4 linked regions of the Homo sapiens genome follow. The protein of the gene in region 1 purifies or fractionates together with the protein of each later gene. This does not show direct contact. Each region holds a gene or a part of one and is shown in the gene's direction. Other genes may lie near its edges. The genes, in order: NXF2, MEIOC, YTHDC1 and BORA.

What was found.
Region 2: the proteins of NXF2 (region 1) and MEIOC purify together in Homo sapiens (affinity purification with mass spectrometry, with the first as the bait; 2 studies listed by BioGRID). This does not show direct contact.
Region 3: the proteins of NXF2 (region 1) and YTHDC1 purify together in Homo sapiens (affinity purification with mass spectrometry, with the first as the bait; 2 studies listed by BioGRID). This does not show direct contact.
Region 4: the proteins of NXF2 (region 1) and BORA purify together in Homo sapiens (affinity purification with mass spectrometry, with the first as the bait; 2 studies listed by BioGRID). This does not show direct contact.

The regions. Positions count from the first base shown.
Region 1 is NC_000023.11:102,313,138-102,320,170, forward strand, and holds part of NXF2 (nuclear RNA export factor 2), read left to right. Parts: intron 1-3,825; coding exon 3,826-4,015; intron 4,016-4,241; coding exon 4,242-4,392; intron 4,393-4,695; coding exon 4,696-4,779; intron 4,780-4,890; coding exon 4,891-4,995; intron 4,996-5,110; coding exon 5,111-5,191; intron 5,192-5,377; coding exon 5,378-5,447; intron 5,448-5,603; coding exon 5,604-5,692; intron 5,693-5,812; coding exon 5,813-5,920; intron 5,921-6,099; coding exon 6,100-6,209; intron 6,210-7,033. UniProt on the Homo sapiens protein: Involved in the export of mRNA from the nucleus to the cytoplasm.
Region 2 is NC_000017.11:44,652,459-44,659,496, forward strand, and holds the start of MEIOC (meiosis-specific coiled-coil domain-containing protein MEIOC), read left to right. Parts: upstream 1-4,009; 5' UTR 4,010-4,155; coding exon 4,156-4,224; intron 4,225-4,668; coding exon 4,669-4,803; intron 4,804-7,038. UniProt on the Homo sapiens protein: Is required for meiosis completion in both male and female germ cells. Confers stability to numerous meiotic mRNAs in gonads allowing proper initiation and progression into meiosis prophase I.
Region 3 is NC_000004.12:68,326,079-68,333,111, reverse strand, and holds part of YTHDC1 (YTH domain-containing protein 1), read left to right. Parts: intron 1-264; coding exon 265-318; intron 319-914; coding exon 915-1,009; intron 1,010-2,801; coding exon 2,802-2,910; intron 2,911-2,992; coding exon 2,993-3,110; intron 3,111-7,033. UniProt on the Homo sapiens protein: Regulator of alternative splicing that specifically recognizes and binds N6-methyladenosine (m6A)-containing RNAs.
Region 4 is NC_000013.11:72,751,923-72,756,729, forward strand, and holds the end of BORA (protein aurora borealis), read left to right. Parts: intron 1-246; exon of another isoform or gene 247-1,767; coding exon 1,768-1,899; exon of another isoform or gene 1,900-3,228; coding exon 3,229-3,294; 3' UTR 3,295-4,274; downstream 4,275-4,807. UniProt on the Homo sapiens protein: Required for the activation of AURKA at the onset of mitosis.

The DNA.
Region 1 (7,033 bases):
TCACCCTGTATGTCAGGTACTCATGCCCCTTCCTTGCCATGTCTACTTCATTGCAAGGGCAGTCATTTCTACTTCTCCCTTTGACAATATCAGCCACTCTCTGGTCCCGTCATCCTTCTGTCCCAAAGGACCTGTAAAGCACAGCCGTATAATTATATGTATATATTTAGACAGAGAGTGATATATGTAATAAATTCGAAAAGTGAAACGTCTGGATCAAAGTGTAAGAATGACTTCTGAATGGTTAGGCATATTGCAGAAAATTAGACTCACACACGGTTAGTGGAAGTGTATATTGGTGTAAATATCATTGAAAATCCTTACGAAAATATCACTTTATGCTTAAAAGTACTCATGTGCTTCTCCTGGGAAACTGTAGAGCAGGGACTCAAAATCTTAAACCCACTTCGAAGCCCTGGCTGTGTTCCACTGGGTTTTTTGGCCACCCCTGCTGGGGGTACTCTGTAACCCTGGTCAACCTGTGGGTATTGTTCCATTACTTTTGTGTACAGGGAACTCTCCTACTTTCTTATTTTAAAACTATCAGTTCAAATATTAAAACACCGAGAGGTAGAAAAGAAAAAAAGCACTAAAAAGCATATTCTGAACAAGAAACAAAATTTGGCCATATATAATACATAACACATGAAAAGAAATGTGCAGTGGGATCCAGTGTTGTGTGGCAATGTGTTTACCAACATGATTTGGAGTACATGTATCTGTAACCTAATTGTGGAAGCATGTAATACGAAACACTAATACTTGCTCGCATGGGCAACACGGACACACAGACCACACATTCTTCCCTTTCTCTGAGACAGGGATGATGCTTCCTGTCTGTCACAAGGCTGAGTGAACACAACATGCCTGTAGGTCCAGAACATTCTTCCTACAGAGACCAGATGTCCAGAAAGCCCTATCTGCTGGATTCAGGGAACGCCTCTCCTCATTTCTGTCAGCACTATTTGCAAAAGCCTCCTTCTCTGAGATCTTCAAAGCTGCAGTTCTAGCCACAGTCTGCAGGGAGGTACTCAGTTCTATTTCTAAGGATACATTAATGAAAAAATATTAATGTTGCAGAAGAAAAGATTAATTTGTTCTAGTTTTGCAGTCAGGTTATGAAATAGTTCTGCAGCCCGAATAGCTCTGGAATAAATATAAATAGAGGTCGGTAGAAATGGTTCAGATGGATGTATTCTCAAAAGTGGTTTTGTCGATGATCCCAAACCTACATCAAATGCATTCATTTAACAAATATTAATTAGGCCCTTATTCTATGCCAGACACTACCAGCCCAAAGTGACTCCTAATCTGAAAACCCATGGCCCAAACAGATTACACCCATCTGGTCCAAGACAGAGATCTCCACCTTATCCAAGACACCTGGTTCCCACCCCAACAGGAGTGACTAGCACAAAACATCATCCCGGCCTGCTTACAAAAAAATCTGTCGATGAGACCTGAAAGCTTGCCATTTAAGGGAGAACCAGTGCAGTCTCTGGAGGAGCACTCAGGGTATAGAGGCAGACCAATATACGTGAGGACATAATTCCTGTTCTGCCACTTACCTGGCTGGGAAATGTACCCGACATCTGTGAACCCAATATTCATGATCTGAAAAGGGACTGTGGATAAAATTCTCATGGGATTTCTGTGAGGAGGTCAAGAGAAACCTAGTGAGTCTGCCCAACACTGAGCAGATGTTGGTTGCCACTGGGCAAGGGTTGGTTTTCTTCTTATCCCGTTCTTTCCCTGCCGTAGCAGGGATGCTGATGCCATGCACTCAGTGGCATGGCAGTGATGTAGGCAGAATTCCAAACTAACACAGGAAGTACCAGTAGGAACACACGTGATGTCATAAAGGTTACTCACCACTATGTCTGTGTGGGGGGATCAGCCAGTACATGGTGGGACTTGAGGGGAAACCCAGGCGGTCTGGGTGAGAAGTACTAGCTGCTTTATAATACTCTTGAGATCGCCCGTAATTCTGGCAGCACAACTGCGAGACAGGGATTGTGCTGAGATGCCAGAGTTCAGCAAGTGGATGTACGCCTGTGTGTGTTGTGTCTTCGGCATCTCTCTCTGTCCGGTCCCTCTGTGGCTTTTTATCACATGTGCTCTCTTCCAACACAAGGCCTTGCCTGAGGCTGTAGCTGTAGCTGTTGGCTAGCTTACACTTTTACACCTTCTTCCCCTCAGTGACGTTATTTCTGAAGTAATGTGTGTTCTCAAAAATGACTCTGACTCTTCCTGTGCTCCATATATTGACCGTGTGCCCTTAACCCTCACTTTAATCTTTGATTTTTTTCCCTTTCATTTATGGACTTTCATGAAAATGAGTTGGTTTCTGGACATCCTCCAAATGTCACCAATAGGGGTCTTTGTTGTTGTTGTTGCTGTTGTTGAGTATTGTTATGGACTCATAACTTTTTAACATACTGATGGGCTCCAAACCGCGGTTAAAGGATTTTGAGTAAAGGAATGACAAGATTTGACTTATGCCTTAAAAAATCACTCTGCCTCCTGTGTTGAAAATAGATGGTAGGGGAGTCAAGGGCAAAAGCAGGACAACTTGGAAGGCAGCATAATCCAGGAGACAGATGTTGGTGACCTGGCCAGGGTAGGTAGCAATGGAGGGGGTGAGAAGTGGCCAGACTCTGGATATATTTTAAAGGTAGAGCCAAGAGAAGATACATCCATCCTGATCGGTTGGATGTAGAGTGTGAGAGAAAGAGAGCACTCCAGCCCCACTTCCAAGTTGTAGGGACCAAGCATCAGGAATGTCTAGGTCAGATGCTCTGCCCACATTTAATTTCACTTCTAATGGCACACAGGGAAAGTCCCAGCAATCGAGAGGAGCAGGACTGTCCTGACAGCGGGTCACACACAGTGAAAGCAATGATGCCCCCTACAGAAGTTCATCTGAGGCCTGGCCATAATCAGTATATTGCAGAGAGGTCAGCAGTGACCGAAATTTTATTCATAAGAGTGCCCTGAGACAAGGTGTACATTTTGAAATTGGTCGAGGTCTGTTTGATGGTCCAGGAGATGGTCTACCTTCGTGAATGCTGCAAGACAGTAGAGGGGGAAAAAACATACATGCTCTGTTTTTGTTGTTGGGTACAGTGTGTTGGGTACGGTGTTTTATTTATGTCATTTAGATCCTGTTACTGTAGTGGTTTTCAGTATCTGCTGATTTTCTTTCCAGTAATTCTGTCACTTGCTTAGGAAGAGTTGTCTCTTGGGCTGAAAGCATTTCGGGCTGGGCAAAAAGAAAGCTTGCTCTGGGTATTTCAAACTGAGTATTTTTGAGGGCAAGGCTGGAGGCAGGAGGGCAGCTTGGGAAGCTGTTACATCGGACCCACCTGTCATTAAAGCTCGTACTGCACTGGCAAAGAGGTATAGCTTGCTGATTGTTCACAGAATGCATTTGGGGATTGGATTTGGGAGGTGCGAGAGAGCTTGTCTCCCAGGTGTTGGTGTGGTTGTTAGATTAGAGAAGCCTGAGAGAAGGCAAGATTAGGACCCCTTCCAGGTGTGTGGCTGGTGTCTAGTCTAACCCATGGACACGCGCACCTCTGTTCTTTATAATTCCTGCTCCATTTCTCAGGAGGTTCAACACAGTTGCTTCCTCTCCCAAGATTCCTACCCTGATTGTGCCACCTGTGAGATAAGGCTCTTGTATCTGGACAGGCAGAGGAGTTTGTTTTCTGGGGCTTATGTGGCGGGTTGGCACTTTGCTAGCCCTACCATGGAGTTAGCTCACGACGTGGTACGTGGTAAGTGGACCATTGATGTGTCTCAAACTTGTCTTTTTGTTCTCAGTTGCAGAATGCCATGACCATGGTAGCACTTTTCAAGGAAGAAAGAAAGGTGGGAGTTCTTTCCGGGATAATTTTGACAAGAGGAGCTGTCATTATGAACATGGTGGGTATGAGCGCCCGCCTTCACACTGCCAGGAGAATGATGGAAGCGTGGAGATGAGGGATGTCCACAAGGACCAACAACTAAGACAGTAAGTGACCAGGCAGCCTGGTTTGCACGTAGCAGCCCCCGGGACTGTGCAACCCTTTCATTCTCTGTGGTCTTCCTTTTCTTCTCTCATTAGAGAACTGACGAATGCTGGAAGTGGAATAGTGGCTGAGCAGTCCTAATTGTAGCCCTGGCGTCAGTGAGTGGAGCATGTATAGGAGACTTTCTTAGATTTAATGGATACCCGCCTTCTCTCCTCTTCCCCACAGCACTCCTTATAGCATCCGATGCGAAAGAAGAATGAAATGGCATAGTGAAGACGAAATCCGTATTACCACGTGGAGAAATAGAAAACCTCCGGAGAGAAAAATGAGTCAGAACACACAGGATGGATACACAAGGAACTGGTTTAAGGTCACAGTGAGTATCTTGGTGGGGTCTGCATTAGGTGGACTATTCTGGAACCTGATAGAAGGAAGACCACTTAAAACACCCTAAGTTGATTATTTGGAGGAGAGCTTCGGAATGGGGGGAAAGGGAGTTTAGGGCATCTATATTTGGCACAAAAATAAGAAATCATGTCAGCGGTCCTTTCTTTAGAAATCTAAGCTAAGTAGAAGGTTGGAAAGAAAGAAAAAAAAAACCCAGCTGGTTGGTTCTGTTCTCCATCCTTAGTTCCACGTTGTCTCTCCCTTCCCTCCTATTTCTTCTTTTTACCCTTAGATTCCTTACGGGATAAAGTATGACAAGGCATGGCTAATGAATTCAATCCAGAGCCATTGCAGTGACCGCTTCACTCCGGTTGATGTAAGAGAGGATGGTGAAGCCAGATGAGTGGGCATGGGGGACGGGGAGAGGCCTGGCTCAGCAGGGGCCATTGGCCTCTGACGCTGTTGCTCTTGCCTTCACTCCCTGTAGTTCCACTACGTCCGAAATCGGGCATGCTTCTTTGTCCAGGATGCTAGCGCTGCCTCCGCATTGAAGGATGTCAGTTATAAGATTTATGATGATGAGAACCAAAAGGTGTGTGCCGAGGGCATGCCCTGTACTTAGTCTCTGGGCAGGAGGACAGGCCAGGGGGCTGGTCATCCTCTTTGGGATTAGAGGTCCTGGTACTTACCACCCTGCCTTCCTGCAGATATGTATATTTGTCAATCATTCTACTGCGCCCTACTCTGTGAAGAATAAGTTGAAGCCAGGCCAAATGGAGATGCTAAAGGTAATACAGACTCAAGGATCATTGTATGCCTGCTTCCTGGACCCACCTCTTCTTCCCCTGGCCCCCTCTTTCCCTGTCACCACCACCACCACCACCACCACCACCACCACCACCACCACCATCACCACCACCACCACCACCATCACCAGAGCCCCAGAGCCTCTGTCTTCATCTCTATCTCTGCAGCTGACCATGAACAAACGGTACAATGTCTCCCAGCAAGCTCTTGATCTCCAGAATCTCCGCTTTGACCCAGGTAAGGCTGACAGCAGCAATTCTAAGACAAGCGGGGGCAGAGAGGTCTGCCTGGGAGGGAGACTTAGGAATGGCAATTTACAGAGGGGTTGGGGCTGGCTCTGGTCCAGCCAGGGCCCTCCCAGCCTTCCGATTCCCTTCTCTTGGCTTCTTCAAGACTTGATGGGCCGTGACATTGATATAATCCTGAATCGAAGAAACTGCATGGCTGCCACCCTGAAGATCATTGAAAGAAATTTCCCTGAGGTGAAGCCTTAGGCTCAGTGCTGGTATTTAGTTAGAGGGGTGGAAGGGATAAGGTGGAGGGCAGATTTGTCTCTGAGGCCCAAGATAGTAGCCGCCACTCTAACTCTTCTTGACCCAAAGCTGTTGTCTTTGAACTTGTGCAACAACAAGCTGTACCAGCTGGATGGCCTTTCTGACATTACAGAGAAGGCTCCCAAAGTCAAGACCCTGAATCTCTCCAAAAATAAGGTGAGAAGGGGGAGCCAGATCAACTTTGGGTGGAGGGCAGGACACATCAGGATAATGGCAACAGCCAGGCAGTGGCACCTGTGGGTGACTATGAGGGCCGGGGGAATTCAGGGCCCAGGGTCCTGGGTGTCTCTCTTTCCCTGGCCCTCCTTCTCCAGTTTCCTCCCCATCTTTCTTAGCTGGAGTCGGCGTGGGAGTTGGGCAAGGTGAAAGGGCTGAAGCTCGAAGAGCTATGGCTAGAAGGGAACCCGTTGTGCAGCACCTTCTCGGACCAGTCCGCCTATGTAAGGTCAGTGGCAACCCCGGTCACCCTTCCTGGGCACCTTTGCTCCCTGGGTGACTGAGCTGTGTCTGAAGGTGCCCTTCTGCAGGAAGAAGCAGCCTTGGTCCTCTGGGAGGACCACAGACCTCCCTTCCTACTCTCTCTCTCTCTCTCTCTCTCTCCTCTCTCTCTGTCACTCACTCATCTGTGCTTAGAGGTCTCCTTTCCTTCCTCTGACATGGTCCCCTTTTCACCTGCTCTGGGGTGTGTTTCCCGCCTGTCTCCACCAAGCCTCCTCCAGTGTGCCCTCTGTGAGTGTGCTCCAGGAAGTGGGGCTCCCCCACCTCCCCAGGACCAGCAGTATTCAGATGCTGGTGCCCTGGACCGAGAAGAGTCCTTTAGTCCGGGGCTTCATGCTGAGACAGGCCTTCCTGCCTCCATGCTGCGATGGGGCTTCCCTCCCCTGTCCCAAGAGGGGTTCTCCTTCTCTTGCTCCAAAAAGGTCCCCCCACCTGTCCTGGGCTGGCATGGGGGCTTCCCTGCCCCATACTGAGGGCTGGGGCCCCGGGTGGCTGCTGTCATGCCATCTCTTCCTCTGGCCCAATGCCAGGAGCTGGGCCCTCCTTGGGGAGAAACCTGGGTTTCCTACGTCAAGGGGCCAGAAGCGGGCCACGTTCCTGAGGCAGGAGTGGAAGGCAGAGGGCAGAGGAGGTTGAGAAGACAGAAGGACAGGCCTCTCAGGGCACTGCCCCACCTTCCCTCCTTCTCCACCTCACATCGTCCTGCCTGGGCCCTCAGAGGAGCCCTGGGTAGCCCGAGATGGGTAGCATTCCTCGGTCAAGGCGTCAGCA
Region 2 (7,038 bases), on another chromosome or scaffold:
ACATGGAAAAACCCTGTCTCTACTAAAAATACAAAAATTTAGCCAGGCGTGGTTGTGCGTGCCTGTAATCCCAGCTACTCGGGAGGCTGAGGCATGAAAATCCCTTGAACCTGGGAGGCAGAGGTTACAATGAACCAAGATCGTGCCACTCTACTCCAGGCTGGGTGACAGAGGGAGACTCTGTCTCAAAAAAAAAAAAAGAAAGAAAGAAAGAAAAAGAAAAAGAAAATAACAAGTGTTGGTGAGGATGTGGAGAAATGGGAACTCTCATGCATTGTTGGTGAGAATGTAAAATGGTGCAGCCACAGTGTAAAACATTTTGGAATTACTCAAGACATCGAATACAATTACCATATGTCCCAACAATACCACTCTTAGGTATATACCCAAAATAATTGGAAAAAAAATTAATCAAATACTTGTACACCAATGTTTCTAGCAGTACTACGCACAATAGTGAAAAGTTGAGAGCCAAGCGCGGTGACTCATGCCTGTAATCACTTTGAGAGGTCAAGGCAGGCAGATCACTTGAGGTCAAGAGGTCGAGAACACCCTGGCCAACATGGTGAGATCCCATTTCTATTAAAAATACAAAAATTAGGCGGGGCACGGTGGCTCAAACCTGTAATCCCAGCACTGTGGGAGGCTGAGGCAGGCGGATCACCAGAGGTCAGGAGTTCGAGGCCAGCCTGTCCAACATGGCAAAACCCTGTCTCTACTAAAAATACAAAAATCAGCCAGGCATGGTGATTCATGCCTGTAATCCCAGCTACTCAGGAGGCTGAGACAGGAGAATCACTTGAACCCAGGAGGCAGAGGTTGCAGTGAGCTGAGATCATGCCACTGCACTCCAACCTGGGTGACAGAGCAAGACTCTGTCTCAAAAAAAAAAAAAAATTAGCCAGGTTTGGTGGCACATGCCTGTAATCCCAGCTCCTGGGGAAGCTGAGGCAGGAGAATCATCTGAACGATTCCTCCGATAAGGGGGAGGTTGCAGTGAGCCAAGATTGCGCCTGCACTCCAGCCTGCAGCACAGAGCAAGACTCTGACTCAAAAAAAAAAAAAAAAGGTGGAAACCACCCATGTGTCCATAAACAGATGAATGCTTGAACAAAATGTGGTATATCCATACAATGGAACCTTAGTCAGCCATAAAAAGGAATGACATTCAGGTATATGCTATAACATGAAGGAACCTTGATGACAAGGTTTATTTTACCTTAGTAAAATAAGCCAGGCACAAAAGGATAAATATTGTATGATTCCACTTATATATGGTACCTAGAGTAGTCAAATTCATAGAGATAGAAAGTAGAATGGTGGTTGCCAGAACTGGGAGAAGGGGGCATGGGGAATAATTATTTATGGGATGCTGCAGAGTTTCTGTTTGTGATTAATGAAGTTCTGAAACTGTAGAGCGGTCATGGTTACACAACATTATGAATGTGCTTAATGCCACTTAACCAAACACTTAAAAACGACAAATCTTATGTATATTTTACTATAAAAATACATAAGGGGATTCATAGCTTTTCAAAATGCTTCTAGGGAGTATAGGAGAGGGGGAAAAAGCCAGTAGTCCTCAATGCAATGAGCCCTACACCAGCAACTTTAAGGCTGAGGCAGAGAAATGTAACTGTTAGAGCCACACCACCTGGTCAGCTTTTTTTAAGTGTGTGTGCGTGTGTGTGTGTTTGTGTGTGTGTGTGTGTGTGTGCATGCACATTTTGTTTTTCCTTTTTGTGGAGCACTATATTCCCCAGGCAAATCTCAAACTCCTGGGCTCAATCTATCCTCCTGCCTTTGCTTCCCTAAATGCTGGGATTACAGGTGTGAGTCCAGCAGCTTTTTTTCTTTTCTTTCTTCCTTTTTTTTTTTTTTTTTTTTTGAAACAGGGTCTTGCTCTGTTGCCCAGGCTGGAGTGTGATGGAGTGATTATGGCTCACTGCATCCTCCAACTCTCCAGCTCAGGCGATCCTCCCATCTCAGCCTCCCAAGTGCAGGTACCTGGGACTACAGGCACACACCACCACACCCAACTAATTGTTAATTTTTTTGTAGAGACGAAGTCTCCTTATGTTGCCCTGGCTGGGCAACTCCTGGGCTCAAGCAATCCTCCTGCCTCGGCCTCCCAAAGTGCTGGGATTACAGGCACAAGCCACTGCGCCCAGCCTTGGTGAGCTTTCTGAACTCAAAGCTGAGTAGAGACCTGAAGTAACTATCAGGACAATATGGGTCAATAAAACTCATCCTCCTACTTCCATTCGTGTCTGAGTTAAAACAGTATCTTCCACTTAAGTGCTCATTTCTCAAGTTTTGATTTTAAATATAAAAACAGCCTAAAGGTGCTTACTGTGTTTACTTCTTTTATATTTCAACTATCTGATTTTTTAGCAGTGTCTAGGGACAAAAACTAGCATTTCTCTGAGACCATCACATCCCCAATCTGACTGCTATGTGAATGGTTTGTTGGGTGCCTGGAATGGCTTGTTTATGTAAGCTCTCACCTGTAATCCCACACTTTGGGAGGCCGAGGCGGAGGATCACTTCAGGCCAAGAGTTCAGTTCAAGACCAGCCTGAGCAACATAAGGAGATCCAACCCCCTACCCCCATCCCCACCTCCAACCCCAGCTCTACAAAAAAATTAAAAAATTAGCTAGGGCCAGGCGCCGTGGCTCACGCCTGTAATCCCAGAATTTTGGGAGGCCGAGGCGGGCGGATCACGAGGTCAAGAGATCGAGACCATCCTGGACAACATGGTGAAATTCCCGTCTCTACTAAAAATACAAAAATTAGCGGGGCGTGGTGGCGTGGGCCTGTAGTCCTAGCTACTCGGGAGGCTGAGGCGGGAGAATCGCTTGAACCCGGGAGGCGGAGGTTGCAGTGAGCCTTTGCGCCACCGCACTCTAGCCTGGCGACAGTGAGACTCCATCTCACCAAAAAAAAAAAAAAAAAAAAAATTAGCTGGGAGTGGTGGCACGCGCCTGTAGCCCCAACTACTCGGGAGGCTGAGGCGGGAGGATCGCTCGAGACCAGGAGTTTGAGACCAGCCTGGGCAACATAAGGAGACCCAACCCCCCCGCCCTTCAGCTTTACAAAAAAATTAAAAAATTAGCCAGGAGTGGTGGCGCCGCGTGCCTGCAGCCCCAGCTACTCGGGAGGCTGAGGCGGGAGGGTCGCTTGAACCCGGGAGTTCAAGGCTGCAACGAGCTATGATAGCGCCACTGCACTCCAGCCTGGGCGACAGAGCAAGACCCTGTTTTACACAGACAAACAAAAACGAACAAAAAGGTCACAGCGAACTTTGTTCAAAAGTCACATTAACACTTAAATGCCTTAACCCGGACTGAAAGCCCGGGCTTAGGACACAGGGCAGCTCTCCCTCAAAAAGGGGTCTCCCAGCAACACCCAATCCACAAGTTGCTCCTCGCCCTCCCCAAACCGGTACAAGATATATCAGTCTCTGGGCAGCTCCAACGGATTCTGAAGCTACGGGAGGGACTAAGGAACAAATATGAAATGTCGGACAAATGAAATGTGCGCAACAGCTAGGTTTTGGAGGATAAGCCAGTTGCTGAGCGACTTCTCAAATCTTCCAAGTGCCTCCAACACCTCTCCCACCCGGTAGGGCTGCGCTCTTTAGCTCTTTCAACCTTCCACGACCGGCCTCTCCGCTGCCCTATCAGCAAATCATCGGGCCGGTGCCTGCCAGTCCGGGCCAATCCCGAACACATTTACTTTGAGCGGGAAAAGCTCAGAAGCGGCGAGAGAGCGTGGTCCGCTAACCGCCCCTTCCTCTCCTTGTCTCTGGGGGGTAACGGAGCCTGGAGTGGTCGCCCATTGGATGGGCATCGGACCAATGGCGGGCTGCGAAACGGGAGGGGCGGGCCTCACAGCGGGGCGGGGCGCGCCTGTGCCGTGTCGCGTGCCGAGCCGCGAGCCCCAGGCAGGCCAGGTAACGGCCTCTGCCCCCGCCCCTCCCTCCCCGCTCGGACTTCCCTTACCCGCACACTGGCTCCAGGCAGCGCCCGGGCGGCGGAGGCGGCTGCGGAGACGGCGGGGTGCGGGCTGAGGGAGCCGGGCCTGGACGCCCCCCCCATCACCCCCGTACCCCAGGAGCTGTGCCTAGTCCAGGAGAGGCTGGGGGGCGCCCCATGGAGGTGAGACGCGGAGACACCTGCCCGCGCCCTCACCCCTCAGGCCTGAGGGAGGAAGGACTTGAGGTAATGGATGAGGAAGGGCAGGGTCCAGGGGGCGGCCAGACTTGCAAGAGGCGACGAGGAGGAGAGGCTGAGGAGGGGGCGCGTCCCTAGACGGGGCGGCAGAGGCGGGTCGTCGGTGGGGAGGCCGAACGGGGCGGGCGGGCGGGGGGCGCGGCGCGGGCTGACTGGACGGGCCGGACGGAGCGCGGGTCGCCGCGATTCCCGGGAGGCAGCCGTCGCGCTGAGGCGGTGGCCGGGGAGGGGCGCCCCTCGGGGTCAGCACTCAGGGGGCCCGAGGGGAGAGTGAGAATCCCGAGGCTGGAAGCGCGGGCCCCCACATTCGTGTCCTCTGAGAGGGTTCGGAATTGAGCCGAACAGCCGAGGTAGAACAGGTGTCGGGCCGTTTCAGCTCCGGCGTCACCCTCGTGACCACTTTCTGATATTTCCTATTCCCGTGTGCTGCAGCCCAAAGTCGCGTTCCCCGGAGGTGCGAATCGCTGTTGGAACCTCGGCGCCGACGCCGGCAGCAGGTTAACCGACGTCTTCGGCAGCGTGATGTTGACTGGCTCCGCTTCCTTCTACGATTGCTACACATCGCAGGTCCTTTAGTAAACTCTGCCTCTGTTAGACGATTTATTCTCAAATGGATTTACTCGAGCCACCGATTCATAGGTGTTTAATGGCTCCACAGTTAAGGAAGAGAAAACCAGGGAAAACTTTTTTTTTTTTTTTTTTTTTTTGAGACAGAGTCTTGCTCTGTCTCCTAGGCTGGAGTGCAGTGGCGCCATCTCGGCTCACTGCAACCTCCGCCAGCCGGGCTCAGGCGATTCTTGTGCCTCAGCTTCCTGAGGCACGCGCCACCACGCCCGGCTGTTTTTTTTGTTTGTTTTGTTTTTGTTTTTTGTTTTTGAGATGGAGTTTTGCTCTTGTTGCCCAGGCTGGAGTGCAGTGGTGCGATCTCGGCTCACCTCAACCTCTGCCTCCGGGGCTCAAGTTATTCTCCTGCCTCAGCCTCCGGAGTAGCTGGGATTACAGGCATGCGCCACCACGCCTGGCTAATTTTGTATTTTTAGTAGAGACAGGGTTTCTCCATGTTGGTCAGGCTGGTCTCGAACTCCCAACCTCGGGTGATCCGCGCACCTCGGCCTCCCAAAGTGCTGGGATTACAGGCATGAGCCACCGCGTCCAGCCGTTTTGTTTTGTTTTTTGAGACGGAGTCTCCTTCTGTTGCCCAGGCTGGAGTGCAGTGGTGCGATCTCGGATCACTGCAACCTCTGTCTCCCTGGTTCAAGCAGTTCTTCCGTCTCAGCCTCCCCAGTAGCTGGGATTACAGGCACCTGCCATCATGCCCGGCTAATTTTTGTATTGTTTTTAGAGACCGGGTTTCACCATGTTCCCCAGGCTGGTCTCGAACTTCTGGGCTCCAGCCATCCTCCCGCCTCGGCCTCCCAAAGTGCTAGGATTTCAGGCCACAGCGCCCAGCCCAGGAACAATTTTTTTTTTTTTTTTTTGAGACGGAGTCTTGCTCTGTCGCCCAGGCTGGAGTGCAGTGACGCAATCTCCGCTCACTGCAAGCTCCACCTCCCAGGTTCACGCCATTCTCCTGCCTCAGCCTCCCGAGTAGCTGGGACTACAGGCACCCGCCACCACGCCCGGCTAATTTTTTTGTATTTTTAGTAGATACGGGGTTTCACTGTGTTAGCCAGTATGGTCTCGATCTCCTGACCTCGTGATCCGCTCGCCTCAGCCTCCCAAAGTGCTGGGATTACAGGCGTGAGCCACCGCGCCCGGCTACAATCTTTTAAATACAGTGTTTGCAGAATACATACTTTGCTTTGAAAATAAGTTAAGGGCCGGGCGCCATGGCTCGTGCCTGTAATCCCAGCACTCTGGGGGGCTGAGGCGGGTGGATCACCTGAGTTCGGGAGTTCAAGACCAGCCTGGCCAACATGGCGAAACCCCATCTCTACTAAAAATACAAAAATCAGCCGGGTGTGGGGGCAGGCACCTGTAATCCCAGCTACTTGGGAGACTGAGGCAGGAGAATCTTAAACCAGGGAGGTGGAGGTTGCAGTGAGCCAAGATCATGCCACTGCACTCCAGCCTGGGTGACAGAGTGAGACTCCCTCTCAAAAAAAAAAAAAAAAGAAAAAAGAAAACAAATTGAAGAATAAGATTTTTCATTGATTCGTTTCCATCTTGTCCTTAGCATAACATAATTCCAGAAATGTAAGAAAATCCATTATTTAGTAAGATTAAAATATGTTTTTTTTCGTTCAGGCATTTATTGCAAGTTGGTACAAACATATTTTTGATAATTTAAAGGTGAAAATTTCACTTTACTCCTTTATTTTCTGGTTTTAACAATGTCTTAAATTATATGCTACCACTTACCTCACCAAGACATTTAGATTTATTAATCAAAGGAAATAAAGCTTGGGTAATGTAAGTAATTTTCATTTGAAATTATTTAACCAGGACATCAATGTTGATATTGTTGTACTTTGAATTATAACAATATCTAGAAATAAATTATTTTATTTAATCCACACTAAGAATCTTGTATATTATTATGCCACTGTACAGATTGAGAAACTGAGCCTCAGAGAGCTTGATTTGTGCCCTAAATGACAAAGCTCAAGTGGAACCCAGACCATAGTTCCACTGCTCTCTGCAGTGTTTACATCCGGACTAAAATTTATTTGGATTTAATTTCAGTTCACTGTTTTAAGTATGTTAAGGATATAAGTGATACATTTTAAAGTTAATCCAGTTAATATGCCCACTCAAATATTTGCATATTTCCTGGCCTCTGTTAACGAAAGGGATGCAGAT
Region 3 (7,033 bases), on another chromosome or scaffold:
TTTCACTTTTTTTTTCTTGGAAGATGATGATTCAGTGACTAGTTTTCTGAGTGGGAAACTGTTCAAATATACATACTTTTAAAAAAATCCAAACAACCCAAAAAGCAAAACACTCGTACACATTGAGAAGTTTTTTTTGTGTGTGTGGGTGCGCCAGGAAGAATAATTTGTCTTGAATGAGAATTTTATGTGACAAGACTGTAGAAATTTTGTCTTATCTCTATTAAAGCTCAATCTGAACAAATGTACTTTGGCTAAATACAGGTTCAGAAAAGAAGCATGAGAAATTATCATCTTCCGTTCGTGCTGTCCGAAAAGGTATCATTTAAATTTGAAATTGTTTTCATTGCATGCTGCATAGTCATTATTTTTCCTTATTGGTTCTCCATTAATAGCTGCTTTTAATGTAGTAATGTTCCGATATATTACATGAAGCAAAAAATAATATCTTAACATAGAAAGCTCTGTGTCTGCTTCTTACTGCATATTTTTTAGAATAATACCAAACATTTCAGGATATTTTAGTTTTTGGACAAAATGGGATGGGTGTGTGTGTGTATGTGTGTATGTGTTATATATAGATGTGTGTGTATATATATGTATGTATATAATGGTCTGTTATTCTTGAATCTGAGTAAGAAAATCTATAAAACTTGGTAACCATTTTCATACTTAAATATGGATTTGATATATCGGAACATCACTAGGTTAGGTTTACTTTCTTGCAATATGCTGATTGTCTTTTCTTAGCTTTGCTTTATTACATGTGGCTTAGCCTTCCAGGTTGAATGGGTGATTGTTGCGTTTTAAAAGTTTAGCTGGGTTGTGGAGGGCTAATTTCAGTTAGTACAGTTTTGACCCCTTTGTGTGATAATGGCTTGTGGTTAATCGATTTGGGTTTCTTTTTTTTTCAGATCAAACCAGTAAACTCAAATATGTGCTTCAAGATGCAAGATTTTTCCTCATAAAGAGTAACAACCATGAGAATGTGTCTCTTGCCAAAGCGAAGGTATTAGCATCAGTTCTGTTGAAACTATCCTAATATCAAAATTTTTAAATGGGAAAATAGACTTGTATTATATCAAGTAGCATAGGTATTATGATTTTCATTACGGCTTTAAAGATCTACATTCCAATGGCCACTTAGGATCTGGTTGTAGTCAGTCAGCCTACTTGTAATTTGAGTTTTCTTTTTTTTTTTTTAAGATGATTTTAGGGGTCAGAATATTAAATGTTGAAGGCTATACAGTTTAACTTTTTGCTGTAAAAGATCCTGTTTCTGTTGATTTTTGTTTCTGTACTTCCTCAGTGGCTCATTTATTGTGCTAACACTTCTAAAAGTACCTGTAGTTAACCAATTTTTGTTTTATGTTGATGCTTGATTTACACTTTGAGGTTCTTTTGAAATCATTCTTTTATGGAGAGTTTTATTTTTTAGAATTAAGATCATTGGGATTTAGAAGAAAAAGAATTAGCTTAAAGATCCACTCCAGACTTTGCAAAAAAGATATGCATAGTTGCTGTAGGATGTTGTAAGATAATAATTTTCTTTTTATGTTTGGCTACAAAAATACATTTTTGTGTTACACTAGCTGTTACAGTGTTTTGCTATTCTTGGTTTAAACTGAGTAACTACAGTTTCAACTGATTTTCAGAAACTTAAAACTAAAGTTAGACATTTCTCTAATGATATTTCTGTCAGTATTCTATATTTCTACCTTAAGGACTACCCCTAAAACTTTACAAACAGAAGGAAACAGTACACCAAATAGCCTTATTCTGTTCTCTAGCTTAAGTGGATTTAGGCAGAAGTACACTTGGCCCTCGGTATCCACAGGGTTCCTCATCTTTCGATTTAACTAACTGGATTGAAATATTAGGGGAAAAAGGAATGAGAAATAATAAAACAGAAAATACAAACTTAAACACAGTATAACAACTATTCACATAGCATTTACATTGTATTAGGTATAAGTATTCTAGAGGTGATTTAAAGTATATGGGAGTATATGCATGGGTTATACGCAAATACTGTGCCATTTTATATAAGGGACTTGAGCATCCTCAGATTTTGGTATCTGCATGGGTCCTGGAACCAGTCCCCAGTGGAGACTGAGGAACAACTGTAAGCACTTAGTTTGAATGAGATGTCATTTGTATGAGCAGATGGTGTGAGCTGAATGATAGCATCTGCCTTATTATTCCATTTCTTTTTATCTGTTATGAATGAAGAATTGGTTAAAATGCTTTAGAAATTAACAAATATCTTCCAGCTGTAGGTAAAACGTAGGCCTCTTCAGTCAAACTATTGATACATAAAAATTTGAACTTAAAAACTGCTTTAAAAAACGAACTTAAATAGAAAAATGCTAGATTCTTGACTAATAGAGTAATTTTAAATTATTTGATCAGGTACGGTTTTGCAAGAAGACTAACTTCTAAGTGGCGATTCACCTTCAAACAGGATGTATTTACCACAGTAAATGGTTGTAATATTAAAATAATTGTAGTGATTGGTTTTACTATATAGAATTCTAGTCCCTTAGATTTGAACCTCATCTCCATCTATTTACTACTTGCTTTAATGGTTTTGTAAAATTGGTAATTGTCTCCATTTTTTCCCTTAGGTTTTTATAAATTATTACTACGTTATTCTGACAGCTGATAAATAAAACCTTTCTTCATTATAGCTTACTTAAATTGAAAGCACACCAAAATATGTAGTTTTTTTTCAAACATAACTGGAAACACAAAAGAGTTGTAGTTAATTTCACTTTGTGGTCTTTATGTTATTTATGTAGGGTGTATGGTCCACGCTCCCTGTAAATGAGAAGAAATTAAATCTTGCATTTAGATCTGCAAGGAGTGTTATCTTAATATTTTCTGTCAGAGAGAGTGGAAAATTTCAAGGTAAGAATAAAAATAATTTGGACATATAAAAACATTAATTATATTAGCATCTACATATTATATTATGATATGATTCTCTTAGGGTTTGCAAGACTTTCTTCAGAATCACATCACGGAGGATCTCCTATACACTGGGTGCTTCCAGCAGGAATGAGTGCTAAAATGCTGGGAGGTGTCTTTAAAATTGACTGGATTTGCAGGTAAATTATACACTTCAGTATAGATAACTGAAATTTTGAATACACTACCAGTTTAGAATAATGTGTTAAAGTGAAAAAGTCACTGTATACTTATCTTACCTTGTTCAGTAACTACCTTTATCTAATGTGGGACACAACAAAGGCGTATTTAGTCTAAAGTTACATGTATTTGATTTGTTTTGTATATTAGTAATAAAGCAGTAAATGAATTGGACAGTTGCTTGAAATGTTGTCTGGCGTATCTGTATAATTTTAGTGATTTAACATGTCACTTAAGTTATTGAGGAATGGGAAATAAGTACTATGACTTGGCTAACAATTTCGGAGGTAACTAGTTTAGTCGTGGACAGTATTTTTTAAGGAGGTTAGCAAATGATGTTTAGTTGCCATTGTGATCTTCTGAAACTGAGTTAAGATTTAACTGTATTTATTAGAAAAATAATCAGGCTTATTTTGAACACTGAGTTGTCACTATTTTTAGGTCCTTACTGCACACTGAAGTATTGTACACAAGAAGCTCATTATTTAAGTGATCTTTACGTGGCATACACAAATGTATTACCTGTAAAATTAATTTTAGTTAAAAAGTGTCTGAAAGGAGATGGTTACTTTGTGAGTTTTAAGTTGTTTTTGGGTATTAGATCTTGATGAGCCTGAAGGGGTCGGATGAAAAAGAAGAAAAATGCTATGCATATGATGGAAATCAGCCTAAGCCAAGAAGAGCATGGAAACAAACTATGGGGTTGCAGGGTTGTGGGGAGCAGTGGGAGGGCATATGGATGTGTGAGTGGGATAGGGAGCTACCTTTTTTTATGAAGGAGATGGTTAGGAAAAGAGAAGAACAGAGGGCAAAGATGGATAAGAATGAATGAATGTGAGTCAGCCTAAATGTTTATTGTAGGATAGTGAGGAGCTGTGAAGATAGAGGGAGTGATATATTACAAATAGCATACAGTCACTTACTGTGTAGTGACATACCCATCAACAAAGAATCTTGTCCCATAAGACTGTAGGACTCGTAAGAGGTACCTATAATACCATATTTTACTATACCTTTTCTATGTTTAGATACACAAGTATTTTCCATTGTGTTACATTTACCTACACTATTCAATACAGTAACATGCTGTGCAGATTTGTAGGCTAGGAGAAACAGGTCATACCATATATCCTAGGTATGTAGTAGGCTATACCATTTAGGTTTGTGTAAGTGCATTCTGTGATGTTCACACAATGAAATCACCTAATGAGTGTATCCCTGTCATTAAGTGACACATAACTGTATTAGGTTGATAATAGCGTAGCAAAAAGCTATGTGCAGAAAAAATACTCATCCCATTATTACTTTCTGTGGGAAAGAGTTGGAAATCATCTAAATTCTTTGAAATAGAAAATTAGTTAAATTATAGTTTGTCTCTTAAATATATGTGGAAGTAATTGTGCACATATCAACATGGAAAGGTATAACAAATGAAAAAATACATAATTATGGTATTGGAATGCAGTGTTAGGTGGTGAGACTGTTAGTGCTTTCTCCCACTTCCTCTCTGTTGCCCCCAGGGGTTTTAAAATATAAACTTGGTTTTTTTGAAATCAAAATTATAATTAAGTTATAATTAAAGTTGAAAATCTGGTGACAATTTGTAGGAAAGGGAGTGATTATTTTTATTTTGTGTGTGTATGTGACTGCTCTGTAAAGGCCAGAGGAAACGTTGTAATGTAACATATTTGCAGGTGTTGCTTTCTTGGGAACAGGAGAGAAAATAATTGCCCATTTTTATGTGGGTTGCAGCAGATTTTGTTTCAAATGTTATTTGTTCTGTTAACCTTCATTTTTACATTACTGATAAGGAAATTCTTAATTTTAAGATGAATTTAATTTTTCATGGATTATTCATTCTTCATATTCCTCTTCATTGACTTATTGACTATTCTACTAATTTGTTTGAAATGTATCAAGCAACCGAAGAGGTAGACAGACTCAATTTGTCTATCCTACTAACGTGAGGTGTAAAATTGTGGGCAGTAAAGTGCTTTTATTATTTTAAAGTAAGTTTATGGGTTTACCTAGAAATAGTATTTTTACATAATAAAACTATAGTTTTAATGTTTTAATACTCAAGTTCTATTCAAGTGTAATTTTACAATACTTTACAGTTCTGGAGGGCTTGTGATATTTCTAACATTGATATTTCCTTAGATAAGTCACTTGAACTCTCTTGAGTTTAAATTCTCTCTATATAGTGAGAATTACATTTGAGTCTCAGAACATTTAAATTTAATAAATAGAAATGGTCAGGACTTTGCTATCAACAGTAACTGCTGTTAATATTTTTTTCTTTTGCAGATATAATAATTATTAGATTTATATTTAAGGACCCTTTGGATATAATAATAACTAGACTTAAGCTTTTTTAGGTGTGATCCCTGGATCACTTACATCAGTAGCATCTGACTGTTAAAATGCAGAATCTTGAAACCCACCTCAAACCTGTTAAATTCTTGATGGTTCAGGTAGTTGGTAGGCACATGGAAGATTGGGACCAGATAAGTGTCATGTTTTAGCTGATAAAGAGAGGGAGGCATAAAAAGCGACTTATTAAGGTTGCCACCTGTAATTAGCTCAAAATAAGGCATGATCTATGAAATACTATTCATCCAGAGTTACATTTACTGACTAGGTGTTATATTCCTTTCATGTCCATTCCAAACAACCCATTTCTGTTTTCATTTAGAGTCTCTCCATTTTTCTTTTCTTTTCTTTTGAGACGGAGTTTCGCTCTTGTTGCCCAGGCTAGAGTGCAATGGCGCAATCTCGGCTCACCACAACTTCCGCCTCCCGGGTTCAAGCGATTCTTCTGCCTCAGCCTCCCTAGTAGCTGGGATTACAGGCATGTGCCACCACGCCCGGCTAATTTTTTATTTTTAGTAGAGACGGGGTTTCTCCATGTTGGTTAGGCTGGTCTCGAACTCCCGACCTCAGGTGATCCGCCCGCCTCAGCCTCCCAAAGTGCTGGGATTACTACAGGCATGAGCCACTGCGCCCGGCCTCCATTTTTCTTTTTAACTTTAATCAACAAACCACTGTCCAGCATATAAGAGCCTCTGCATGGCTGGGCGCAGTGGTTCATGCCTGTAATCCCAGCACTTTGGGAGGCTGAGGTGGGTGCATCACTTGAGGCCAGGAGTTCGAGACTAGCATGGCCAACATGGTGAAACCCCGTCTCTACTAAAAATGCAAAAATTAGCCAGATGTGGTGGCGCATGCCTGTAGTCCCAGCTACATGGGAGGCTGAGGCATGAGAATCCCTTGAACTCAGGAGGCGGAGGTTGCAGCAAGCCGAGATCATGCAGCTGCACTCCAGTCTGGGTAACAGAGTGAGACTGTGTCTCAAAACAAAAAACTGTGCACAGTTTTACATTCTTTGTTAAATTTGCCCTATTTGCAGAACCACTTAGGTCAGAGAGTCCCTTACATGTTCTCAAAGAACTCACAGTAAAGATAAGTTGTATCTGTATGCTTCATAACATAGCTGCTCAGAAGGTAACTGTTAGGTTGCTTGTTCTATGATTGTGATCTGAGAAGAAAGGATAAAATAAGGATGCTACATGGATCACAGACCCTGCAATTTTTCTTAATTTATTCTGAGCCCTGTTTTGCCTCAGGCTTCACAGTTTTCTGTGATGTTCTGGCTGAGATTAACTGTGTTGAAACAGTGAACAGATGTCTCTTGAATCTAGTTGGAACCAGTGCCACCAAAGAATCTCAACCCCAAATGATACATTTAGCTTGGCCTATGCTTTTACTTCTACTTGGATCGTGGGTATTTAATTGCTGATATTTAAATAACAGTGATAATCCCATTAATTTATAACCTTCTTATATTTTGGTGGCTGTAGGTTTTCATTTATGCCTTTCCTAT
Region 4 (4,807 bases), on another chromosome or scaffold:
AATGGTAACAAACAAGGGGGACTGAGAATGATGAGGGAAGGGCTAAAGTGCTGGGCCCAGATGTCAAGGAATGTTATCACAGGGCACAACTGTTGCCAATTGAAAGTTTTAAAAGACAATGACATCTGATTTATGTGGTAGAAAAATAAATTTAGTAACAAAGTGCATGTTAAATGACTGACATAGAGACACCATTTAAAGGCACCATGACCCAACTGGAATATAAAGTTTGCAATTAGAACCAAGTTTGAATTAGAGTTCTTTTATTTCCAGGCTGTGGGATCTTAAGGCAAGATTTACATAGCAGTGAATAGAACATGACTTTTTAATTTTTGTCCCCTCATCCTTCTTAGCTATAAAGTGAGATTGATGCCTGCCTTGATGCCTGTGGGGGATAACAAGGTATCTGTTGCCTGGTTGGTACATATTAGGCATTGACATTAGCAGAAGTCTAGATGAGAGACAGTGAAGTCAGCCACCATCTCAACTTGGCTCTCATCAATCCTGCTCTTCCCATAGTGTGGGACAAACTCCCCGCATGCCTTACTTCCTGCTGTACTAATGAGTAACTCTTCCCTCCATATATATCCAGTTACATATTAGTATTGCATTATAAGCCAGCTATTTGGCAGTGATGAATATTAGAAGGAAGAGCTATTGGCAGAATCTCTGGGAGCAATCTGACATTTATATTTTTGATCAAGTAGCTATTGAATGATAGCAGAACAAGGCTTTTCCCCAAAAATGTTACACATCACAAGGCTTTTGTTCTAATTGGAACATGACCTCTAGTAGTAAGCAGATATGTATCCAGCCTTGAAATCTGGGAACATTTTTTCAGGATTATTAAGTGATAAAGAGTGCCGTTTCTAGGCTAGTCTGTACCTTTGTGAGGGAAACAAAATGACAGTCAGCTTTTTCCTTCCCTCTGATCCTAACTTGCAGGGAGGGCTTAAATGCAAAATGATTCCCTTGTGGATTGCTTTCTTTGGTGCTCAGCATTATACAGGTAAATGGAGCGTTGTGCAGTGAACAGAACCTGGACTTAGGTCTCACATCTTCATCACCTCATCACTGGATGACATTGTGAAAGTTAAGCTTTTTAAGCCTTAATTTCCTTCTCTAGTAAAGTATTAGGGTTGTTGAAAGGAGAAAAAAATATTAAATATATAGAGATAGTGCCTGGCCTTTTTAGACACTCAATAAATGTTTCCAAGCTGGAAGTTCGCTAGAATCTTTCTTTTTTGCTCTTTTGCACTGAAACAGTGTATCTTAGGATGCTACAATTTTTATTAACATGAAAAGCTGAACTAACATCTAGAGCCATTATATATGTGGCATTATTGTGAACAACTAGGTGTAAATATAATATAATCCACTTTTTTAAAGGCAGCATGCCTCAAGCCATTTAGAGACAAGCCTGGAAAATGCGTTGGAAGGTGAAGTTAGTTGTAATACTCATTTTTGTCTACTAGGTACGATCACAAAATAACAGGAAAGCATTGTGTCAGTAGGCTGTTCACTGATTCTTAAGGAAGTTACAAGATATATTTCATTGGAAGGAATTGTAAAATGACTACAATAATCAGTACTATGCAGGACTACCTTTTATATTTGTGCATTACTTTTGAATTTTGTTCAACATGATCAATATTACATGTTAGGATCATTCAGATGTAGTGAATGAGAGTTTATAGTGGTTTACTTATTTAAATATTTGACTTTTAAGTTCCTCACAATATATTTTTTTCTTTTTTCTCCTGTCAGATGGATAGTGGCTATAATACGCAGAATTGTGGAAGCAATATTATGGATACAGTTGGGGCAGAAAGTTACTGCAAAGAAAGTGATGCACAAACATGTGAAGTTGAGAGTAAATCTCAAGCATTTAATATGAAGGTACGGAGAAAATATAGTGAAAGCTTAATATTGTTTAGATTAGAAATATAAAATAATTTTGATTATTAGACAATAGTACTATTGAGAAACTATATGAAATTTAAAACACTAAAAGGTAAGCCTGTTTTCTTAACATCCAATAACCTTTAAATATTTTGGTTACTCTGAATACACAAGTATCTTACATACTACAAAGTGTGCAAAGGTAGCGTGTATTTGATGAGGGCATTTACTGAACCTTCCAGGTGGTGGTTATATATTCATACTTGAAGAAACTCATCATAATTTCAGGCACTAGTCAGGACAGTCTTTAATTTTATGTGCCAATTTTTTTTGCATTTTATTTTTTTGTAGAGACAGGGCCTGCTGTGTTGCCCAGGCTGGTCTCAAACTCCTGGTGTCAAGCAGTCTTTCTGCCTCAGCCTCGCAAAGTGCTGCGCGATTACAGGCATGAGCCAACATGCCCAGCCTTGTATGCCGTTTCTTTTTTTTCTTTTTTTTTTTTTTTGAGACAGGGTCTTACTCTGTCACCCGGGCTGGAGTGCAGTCGTAGAATCAGATCACTACAGCCTTTAACTGCTGGGCTCAAGCAATCCTCCTGCCTCACCCTCCTGAGTAGCTAGAACTACAGGTGTGAACCACCTTGCCCTGCTGTTATATGCCAGTTTCTTATAAAATACTATAAATATCAGCAAATGTGCAACAAATGTTTAATAGGGAGGCCACCTTAGTTTTCCTTTCTGTTGTATGTAGTAGGAGCAAACTGCCTTTCTGTTGTATGTAGTATCAGAGCAGGTCTCTTCTAATATTAACCTGAACAAAATCCATCCTATTTCAGGATGCAGTTGTCTATCTAAACATAAGTAGAGATAAATGAAGGATTTTTTTAAATTTTATTATTTTATTTTTTTTGAGACAAGGTCTCATTCTGTCACCCAGGCTAGAGTGTAGTGGCACGACCACAGCTCACTGTAGCCTTCACCTCCCAGACTCAAGCAGTCTTACCACCTCAGCCTCCTGAGTAGCTAGGGCTACAGGCATGTGCCACCACACCCAGCTTTTTAAAATTTTTGGTAGAGACAGGGTCTCACTATGTTGCCAGGGCTAGTCCCAAACTCCTGGGCTCGTGCGATCCTCCCACCTTGGCCTCTCAAAGTGTTGGGATGCTTTTTGATGCAGAATATTGATTTATAAAATACTGTATCTTTACTGTCCCTTCAGAGTTCAGCTAAAGAAACGTGCTTTTAGGTTTTAAAAACAGTCCCGATAATTGCATCCTCCAGTGGTCCTACTTAAACTGAAAACAAGGTATTGTCTTCTTTTTCACAGCAAGACCACACAACACAGAGGTGTTGGATGAAAACAGCAAGCCCTTTTCAATGCAGCAGTCCATAGAATGCCTCTGTCAGAATCAAAGACTAAGCTTAAGAGTTCCTCGCATATATCGTTGTGCACAGGATCAACATGATGGTGACTGGGAAAAAATTACTTCAAGTAACATGCTTAGCTTTCCCTCCTTAATGTGAAAAATCAAGGGCTTACTGACATAGGAACAACAGAAATGCTCCTGGAACTTCAAGTTGCTGAATTATAAGTTTATTTTTTATCAATAAATATTTTTATACTTACATTGAGTGATGTGTTTAACAACAAATTGTGACAGAGCTGAGTGCTCCTATCTTACAGGGTCAATGAACTACTTATTAAGCCTTACTGGTAGCACTGAATTTAGCAGTTCTGAGAACATGTGAAACTATGTTAAAACTGAAGGCACTATATATTTTTACATAAAAGCTTGAACATACAGATGAATTATAACCTATGTGAAGAAATCTTAGATATAAAACTAACTTTTCAAAGATACAAAAGAAATTAAACAGGTTTCCTGAAATTTTAGTTCTTGGTCTGTTCACCTCTGTGGGGAAAATTCTTAGTTCCAGTGATAACTGTTCTAGTTACTACTTTTAAGTATGTAAATACTAGAAAGGTAGTACTAGTGACATCATCACGTGTATTGTTATCTATGGGGCAAATGTGTGGTGCCCAGAATAAAATATACCTCATGCCTAGGGTAGGGACATCCTTTCCAGCTCAAACGTGGGTAGGGATGTGGGAGAATAAGAATGTGGGAGAACCAAGAGAAAAAGTGGGGCTGGGAGAGTGGAGTTCCCGTAGGGCATAGGCCTGTGAAGTAACACTGGGGCAGATATGTATGTTATATACAACTATTTTTTTAAAAAACTTATATCCATGTTGGGAGTAGATGGGTATATAACAGTTTGGAAATACTATCTTTGGAGAATGTATTTTTGTATTTATAAATCAACTTTTAAAAACTGTCTCATTCAAAAGGGAATAAAGACCTGTGTTATCAATGTGTCATTTTCTTCTTTCCTCCATAACTGTACCTTGAAACCTTACTGCTGACCTGCAGAAAATGTGCCGCGTTATGTACCTGGCTCATCTTCAACACACTAACCATGAACACTAATAGCCATTAGGGGACATGGCTACAGATACTACATTGGAAAGTTGTCTTTAATCACACAGGTGTTAAACTCAATATAAATTTACCTAAAAACAATTGCTATACCTAAAAGGAGTTCTGGGTACTAAGGGTAGAAGCCTCACTGGCTACAGTTTTTTAATAGTACAAAAGTCAAGAAATAACACAATAGTGACTATAACCTGTATTCAAATCCCTACTCTGTCACTACTTGATCTGGGCTGATATGGTATGGCTCTGTGTCCTCACCCAAATCTAACCTTGAATTGTAGCAATCCCCACGTGTCAAGGGTGGGACCAGGTGGAGGTAACTGGATCATGGGGGCGGTTTCCTCCATGCTGTTCCTGTGATAGTGAGCCGGTCTCATGAGATCTGAAGGTTTTATAAGCGTCTGGCATTTC